Linked DNA regions of Homo sapiens. The protein of the gene in region 1 interacts with the protein of each later gene in a pairwise test. Each region holds a gene or a part of one and is shown in the gene's direction. Other genes may lie near its edges.

What was found.
Region 2: the proteins of BRWD1 (region 1) and SYT4 interact in a two-hybrid assay, tested with the Homo sapiens proteins (one large-scale study listed by BioGRID and IntAct).

Annotation. Positions count from the first base shown.
Region 1 is NC_000021.9:39,191,623-39,195,280, reverse strand, and holds part of BRWD1 (bromodomain and WD repeat-containing protein 1), read left to right. Parts: 3' UTR 1-3,658. UniProt on the Homo sapiens protein: May be a transcriptional activator. May be involved in chromatin remodeling. Plays a role in the regulation of cell morphology and cytoskeletal organization. Required in the control of cell shape.
Region 2 is NC_000018.10:43,267,406-43,271,063, reverse strand, and holds the end of SYT4 (synaptotagmin-4), read left to right. Parts: intron 1-415; coding exon 416-723; 3' UTR 724-3,172; downstream 3,173-3,658. UniProt on the Homo sapiens protein: Synaptotagmin family member which does not bind Ca(2+). Involved in neuronal dense core vesicles (DCVs) mobility through its interaction with KIF1A.

The DNA of each region.
Region 1 (3,658 bases):
TTTTGTTAAGAGTACAATTGCAAATCTTATCTATATAGGAAAATAGCTAAATGTCATTCTCCATCTCTTTGTTTTAGTTTACTGCTTCCATGTGCAATCCTAAGCATTCTTTGCTGGGGCAACTAAATGTATCTTTATTAGTGACTTCTAGTCCAAATATAAGAAACTGTCATGTTTTGTGGGAAAATAATTTTATAATCCATTTAAAGTGAAAGTTTATCACACAAATAGTACACTTATTTTCTAACCAAATACTTGATAGGTTATGCTACTCCAGTGTAGATGGCCATTCCTAACTTGTTTGTGCCTGAAGATGGACTTGATTCAAATGGTTTACATATTTAGTGGGTAAGGGATATGTTACAGTACCCCACCTGTAAGTTATTTATTAGCCCTAATTGTGTTTGATTTCAGACAAAATTAACCCTTTTCTCCTGTGTATCTTTGAAGTGGCAGATAAGGTGAAGCATCAGACTGGTATCAATATTAGACAATGTTATTTATTAGCCCTAATTGTGTTTGGTTTCAGACAAAACCTTTTCTCCTGTGTATCTTTGAAGTGGCAGACAAGGCGAAGCATCAGACTGGTATTAATGTTAGAGAATGTTCTGAAGTGTTCCTATTTTGTAGTTATCTATTCCATTTGACATAGTAGAAGGTACATTTTCTTTCTACTCTGATGCATGGGGAAGGATGTTTTTGGACATTATCAACTGAGATAGGTGGGAAACCTCCTCTCATTTGTGGCTTAGAGAGCTATCACCATTTCAGAACTATGATGCTTTTCTTCTCAGAACTTGTGTTAAGTAGATAGTAAACAGATTGATTCATGATAATTGTCCTTGACTAAGACTGAAAAGACTAATGGGATGCCTTTTACTTTGCTAATTTTAAAAACTGGTGATAGATGTCAAATCCATTAATTTATTTAAACTCTTCTTAACCTTCTCTTTTATAATCTGTTCTCAGGTTTTAACTCCATGTTTACCATCATTTGCAAAAAGGTACCAAAAAAATCCATAAATAAATATGGAATACATTCATAAGTACATACATTCTTTTGGTATAAAACAATATTTTGACAGTTTAGGCTTCATTAATAGAACTATTCTGATTATTTGGACTGCATTAATTGGTCATTGACTGGCCATCCAATTACCATTTTTTCTTTCAGTCCAAAATAGTTAGACCCTTGCATACAGAAGTGGTATTTTGGTTTTTAATCAGATTTGGTTTCATCAGAAGCAGCAAGAATGGACCTGATGTCTTTAAAAGCATAGCCGACAATGGTAGCTTCTCAAGTTATGAAATAAAACTGAGAGATAATGGAGAAAATAATTTTTATGGGTTTTTTTGGTTATGGTGCTATTCCTAAGGTTAACTTTGAATATGTGACACACACACTCCTAAGTACCTTTAAGGAAAATTAATAAATCATTAATAGTTAAAATGTTTACATTGAGCACTAGAACATGTTTGGCCTTTTTTTTCTACGTTATGCAAAATGCCCAGGGATTTAATGCACAGGTGTACTTTAATGTTTAGGGTCAGTTTGTAGTATTCTTGAGAAAAAGATAAAGGGTTATAATTTGAATGTGAACTGATCCAGAAATAAGTGCTGTACCTTTCCACTGCACTTGAAGTTCAACTTAATGGTGTATGTGAAAAACAAAAACTACTTTGGTTGTGTATGTCCAAAGTCCTATGGTTTTATTCATTTATGGTTTTACAGGCTTTGAAGTACTCAGATTTGATTTTTGCTTTCTTGGAAAGACTCACTTTACCAAGCATATAAAGGAAAAATGATTTCAAACATTGACAAGATAGATGAGTGTTAACAAAGCTTTCTTTTTTCGTGTCCTCCTTATTTAAAAAGGTATACTTACAATGTGAAGTAACTTATGAATAAAAGGAAAAGTTTATCCCATATTCAAATAATTCCTAAGGTCAGCCTCCCTTTTTGTAAGTGGCAAATATCTGATTAAATCATTTCTCAGTTTATTAATCCTTGGAAACAATGATATAGCAGTTACTCACAGCTTGTAAATTACAACAGAAAGGTTCCTTTCAAATAGTAGAGCTGCACCTAAAGAGGAAATTGGGTTTATAAGAAAATGGAGGCAAAGAACTTAAGTTTTAAGAAAAAGCACTTCAAAACAGAAGGGCAAATGGAAAAGGGGAATATAAAACAAACCAATAAAAATACCATCTGAGGGTGTTACTGTCCAAAAGTAAAGAATAAGATGCATCACTAAGCCCTTTGCACTCGTTATGACCTCGTAAGTAAAAATTATCACTTAGAATAAGGGGTGCACACTACATTCCCTCTGTCTTCTAGACTTTTTTTTTTGTAGAAGAATCAGAAAACAATTTACTAACCTCCCTGTTTGATATTAAAAATAGGAAGAATTTTAATATTTTCTGTTAGTACAAGTTGAACTTGATTGTGCCAACTGAAACCCCAGAGGTTTGTATATCAGTAGAATGCAAGAACATTGTTAAAGGTGCTTACGATCTTTTTTGTTTTCCTTTCCACTCCATTGTATCAATTTTTTGAGTAACTTTTAAATGGCTAGAAAATGGTCTTTTTGCTTTGCCCTTTTAAAGCTGAAATAACCAGCTCCATTCTTTTCATGAATAGTAAGTTGATATATTTATTTATCAGGTATCTTGCAGTTGTCACCAAATACTGTAGTTTTCTTATGTTGTATGGAAATTATAGTTCAATTATTTTAATGTGATAGAGTGCAACAAGTCATTGTAGAACTTTTCACCTGTTAATGTTGAAGTTATACCTCTGAATTTCTGCTGTGGATATCAAGGAAATAATAAAGCAGAAACCCCAAGAAATTTGCAACTTAACAGTTTGAGACTGTCTCTTATCCTAGTATTTGGGAAGAGAAGGAATAAATTTGTCAAAACTAGGTGAGAAAATAGAGCATTGTGGGAAAAACTGAGTCCAACTAGATTAGCAAATGTTAATTCCTAGCTCAAACTGTGAATAGTAAGGATTGAAAAGTAAAGTATGTAATGCTAAGGGCTGTGTTGTCTTTTCTTACGATTTTAAGTTTTAAAGGCTGTTAAATTACAGAGATGTTGCCCAAGGATACATGGGGATTCTCAAAAGTAAGAGATTTTTACCTTTTTCATAATCTGCCAAGCTGGTTCCTAATATATTGTTAAATTGGTAGAAAAATATCTTTAAATTGGTGTCTGCTCAAGAATTGCTTTTCTAGATTTGATGGAGGGAGGGGGAGAGTCACATCATTTGGATTCTACCAATCTGCAGGCTCTATCTTTGGCAACATGTAAATAATTAGACTATACATCTGTTTCTCAAGTATGGCAAGACCAATAGTTTGAATTTAATTATCAATGCTATGGTATACTTTCTGGTCATATTTTAGTTATGTCAGTTTTAAGGTAAGTTTTTTCATTTATTAAAGCCCTTAAATGAGATTTTAGACTGCCAAAGAGAAGAGGCAGTCCAATTGACCTAACTGAAATGAGATGACCAGTATATAGAGCCTAGATGGACTGTAGCAGCTCTACCCCTTTGTTTTACAAGGTAAATCATTTTAAAAATTACCTTTTTTGATCAGTGGGTAAAAGTTAAAGGGATCTTTAATTTTTGATATATTCAAGTTAATTTTCTAAA
Region 2 (3,658 bases), on another chromosome or scaffold:
GCCAAAAGTCAGGGAAATAGACTCACCCAAAGTCATACAAGTCAGTAAAGCTACATGTTGTCTAATATATTTTTTTCCTTCTATCCTATTCTCTGGAGTAAGTTAATAGTAATCAGAATGGGTCCATAGAACATTCTATTTTCTTTCCTTTTGTGTTACTTCTTTTCCTATCATTAATTTTTTCCCTTATTCTCTAATTTAGAACTTTTTTCTCTTATTTTCCATATTCTTCCTTATTTTCAATTCTGTTGACAAGAGAAATGCCAAGTTTTATCCATATTTTTCTGTTGTTTTGACTTATTTTCCTGGTAACCACATGTCATTGGCATGCCATGATCTCTAAGGGCACTGTTATCTTGATATCAGCTCTCCAGCCCAGTTATGCCATTGTAATGCCTGTTATGTTCCACTGCAGATCCCTATGTCAAAGTGAACCTGTACCATGCCAAAAAGAGAATCTCCAAGAAGAAGACTCATGTGAAGAAATGCACCCCCAATGCAGTGTTCAATGAGCTGTTTGTCTTTGATATTCCTTGTGAGGGCCTTGAAGATATAAGTGTTGAATTTTTGGTTTTGGATTCTGAAAGGGGGTCCCGAAATGAGGTAATCGGGCAGTTAGTCTTGGGTGCAGCAGCAGAAGGAACTGGTGGAGAGCACTGGAAAGAGATCTGTGACTACCCCAGGAGACAAATTGCCAAGTGGCACGTGCTCTGTGATGGTTAGCATCCTAGCCGTGAGTTGGAACTTAAAGGTTTTTACTAGGCAAGGAGAAATTTTCTTTCTTTCTATATTGGATTGCAAGCTTGGGAAATCAAGCTACCTTTTTGTTGTTGTTGTTGTTGCTAGAAATGGATTGAATTAGTAGACCAGAAAGTAACTTCAAATGTGTATTATGATAATTTCCCTATTTATTAGAAGAGTTGGATAAATTTTCATAAGATATTCAATATCTCCTTCAGATTACCAGTGATATAACTAGGAATAGTCAGACATTTTATGAATACTGTGCCAGAATCCCAAATTATAAATGTGACAATCTCATTGGAACATGTCACAAAAAGTTAATGTGATTAAGATTTAAAAACGAAAAGTATGCCTTGCCTTGTGAAAATTTATCCATTTATCTTCAGGTTGGGGAAATCAATTTTTCTTTAAATCCAAAGATACTAAAAAAATGTCCTCCAGTTTGTATTTATTAATTCTGTCATGTGCAAATGGTTGTCCTGCATATAAAAGTATCTGGTCATTTCAGTTTGGTTTGTAATTATTTGATGCAATTTTATCATAAGAGTAACTCAGATTCATTTCAAAAGGACAGTGAACAAGCTGAGAAATTATTTTATCAAAGGGCTGAGTTGAGAACACTGTGGCTGAAATATAATTTTTCTCCCCCCTAAGGTTACATGTGAGTCAAAATTTTGTAAAATATAACCTCACATAAGAACCATGGCCTTGGATTATTCACTGCCTGTCACAAGCCTCAGTGTGGCCTGAGAAATCCCTATGTACCTTTGTGAAATTGTTGAATTAGTTAGTGAATAAAGAAATAAACTTCAACTAGAAATCCAGTTAGAAGTGCAATTTTCTTATAGGAAATAGGTATAGTGTGCAAGTGTACTTTTAAGGCCATCGTTTGTACCCAGAGTCGGCATGGCCACCTAAGTCTTCATTTAATTTATTGTCCCCCAGAAAAGATTAAGATGCTACTTGAAAAGACTGTGAAGATTTTTTACATTGCCAGATAAAAAGTGTTACTTAACCAACAAACAAATGTAAGACTACAAAATCGTTCAAGAGCAATTCTAATATAATTTACATATGTTCACGCAAAATATGCTTAGGCTGTCAAATTAGCACAACAAAGAATGTGTTTCACTATCTTTTCTAGGCTAATTTGTCTTGAGCTGTTGTCTATAGAGCAGTTTACAGACTTGTGTCTTGTATCATTTTCCAGTGCCAGGGTTCTGAAATTCATTCAGAACCTGTTAGATTAAAGCTGCACCCTGTGATTATTTGAAAAGAATTAGCTTGAGAGTAATGTCACTATATTTGAGTTCTTAGAGAAGTATGAGTGGAACTTGAGTACAGTTGAATTATTAAATATGCAAGTTAGAAATTAAGTCTACTGAAAAATTTACATTTTGAGTCAGGTTTTGTGTCAGTACTTTAGCAGTTTTTGAGAATGTGTTTGATATCACAGTGTTTGTAAATTCTATGAAAAATGCATTTTCCAAACAACTTATACATGCTTTTTATGACTATGCCTAATGTAAAGAAAATGTATTACATTCTGTATGTACAAAGATTAAAAATCAACCTCTTTTTTGTGCTTTAAAATGACTTTGGGATTAAAAAAGCATATTTCCCAATCATTGTCTTCATTCCACTACAAAGTCACCTCACAGCATCTTGCTCCACTCGGCATCTCTGTGAAAGCAACATGAAATGAACTGTAGTAGGTGTGTAGTTTGGGGAAGTCAAATGGCCATTTTATGTATGTGCATTTGGTATCATGGGCCGTGGAACAGAATATATGTTGGACCTCTGAAAAGTTGTAAGGGGCCAATTCTAAGTATTCTTCACGGCAGCCAGAAGTTAATGGTGGTAGCAGCTGAGGTATGGTTGTTGGACGAGGCCGATTTTTTTTTTTTTAACATGGAACAATGAAACCAACAACAAACATTTTTAAAATTAAAATGGATAATTTGTAAATAGTTTTTAGCTTTTAAAATTTAAAGTGTTTTTGAGTGTGAAAAGTTGAGTAAAACTATTTGCAACTGGTTTTCAGAAAAGAGAAAAGAAACAACAAAGGAATTGAAACAGGCAGGGAGATCTTAATACCTAATTTCATCATTTCTGAAAATGTACTGTTTTAGAATGTATTACAATATCAATGTGAATATCTTGAATCCTGTTACAAATCCTGCACTGTATTAAACATGTAAATTAATTGTTTGTCTGATTAGCCAATCTCACCACCCAAATGGGGAGGTATACATGTTTGAAGAACTGTGTAACTCAGTAATTGATTTGTTCTGATGTTGTAACTCAATAGAAGTGTTTTGGAAGGAAGCATGGTGTGTGAGACAGTGTCTGTTCTTTTGTGCCAGCTCTGTATGATGTTTGTAAGACCATGTTTGTAAGACATGAATAAATTGCTGCTTTTGCCCAACCCGTTTCAATGCAGACTTTCTGCCAATGGACTCTGTAATAAGGCTTCTCTTATTGCTGACTGAATTTTCAAGTTTCCCTAGTGGATCTCCTTGTATAGGTTAGGGACCATTAATTACTGAGCATCAGAATCTTTAATACACCTTTTAAAAAAATCTTCATAACAATCACCTGGAGCAGATATCATTAACCTTATTATACAGAAGCAAAACTTGAGGATCAAGGAGCATAGGCAATGGAATCAAGTAGGAAGGAATAGTACTCAAGAGGATTTCATGGCCTGCCCTGCCCTTCCCTCCATACCATTCCACTCTCCTCAAGGGGACCTCATCAACTGGCTTTGCTAGATGTTTAGGCTTATTCTCACATTCTTTGACTTTTTTCTAAATTTTATTCACTTTTCTATGTTTCATTTACTTTTCTCCCCAGTATTTTCAGCCACCATTCTTTATTTACTCTTCTATTTTTTTCCATTATCTCATTTCTT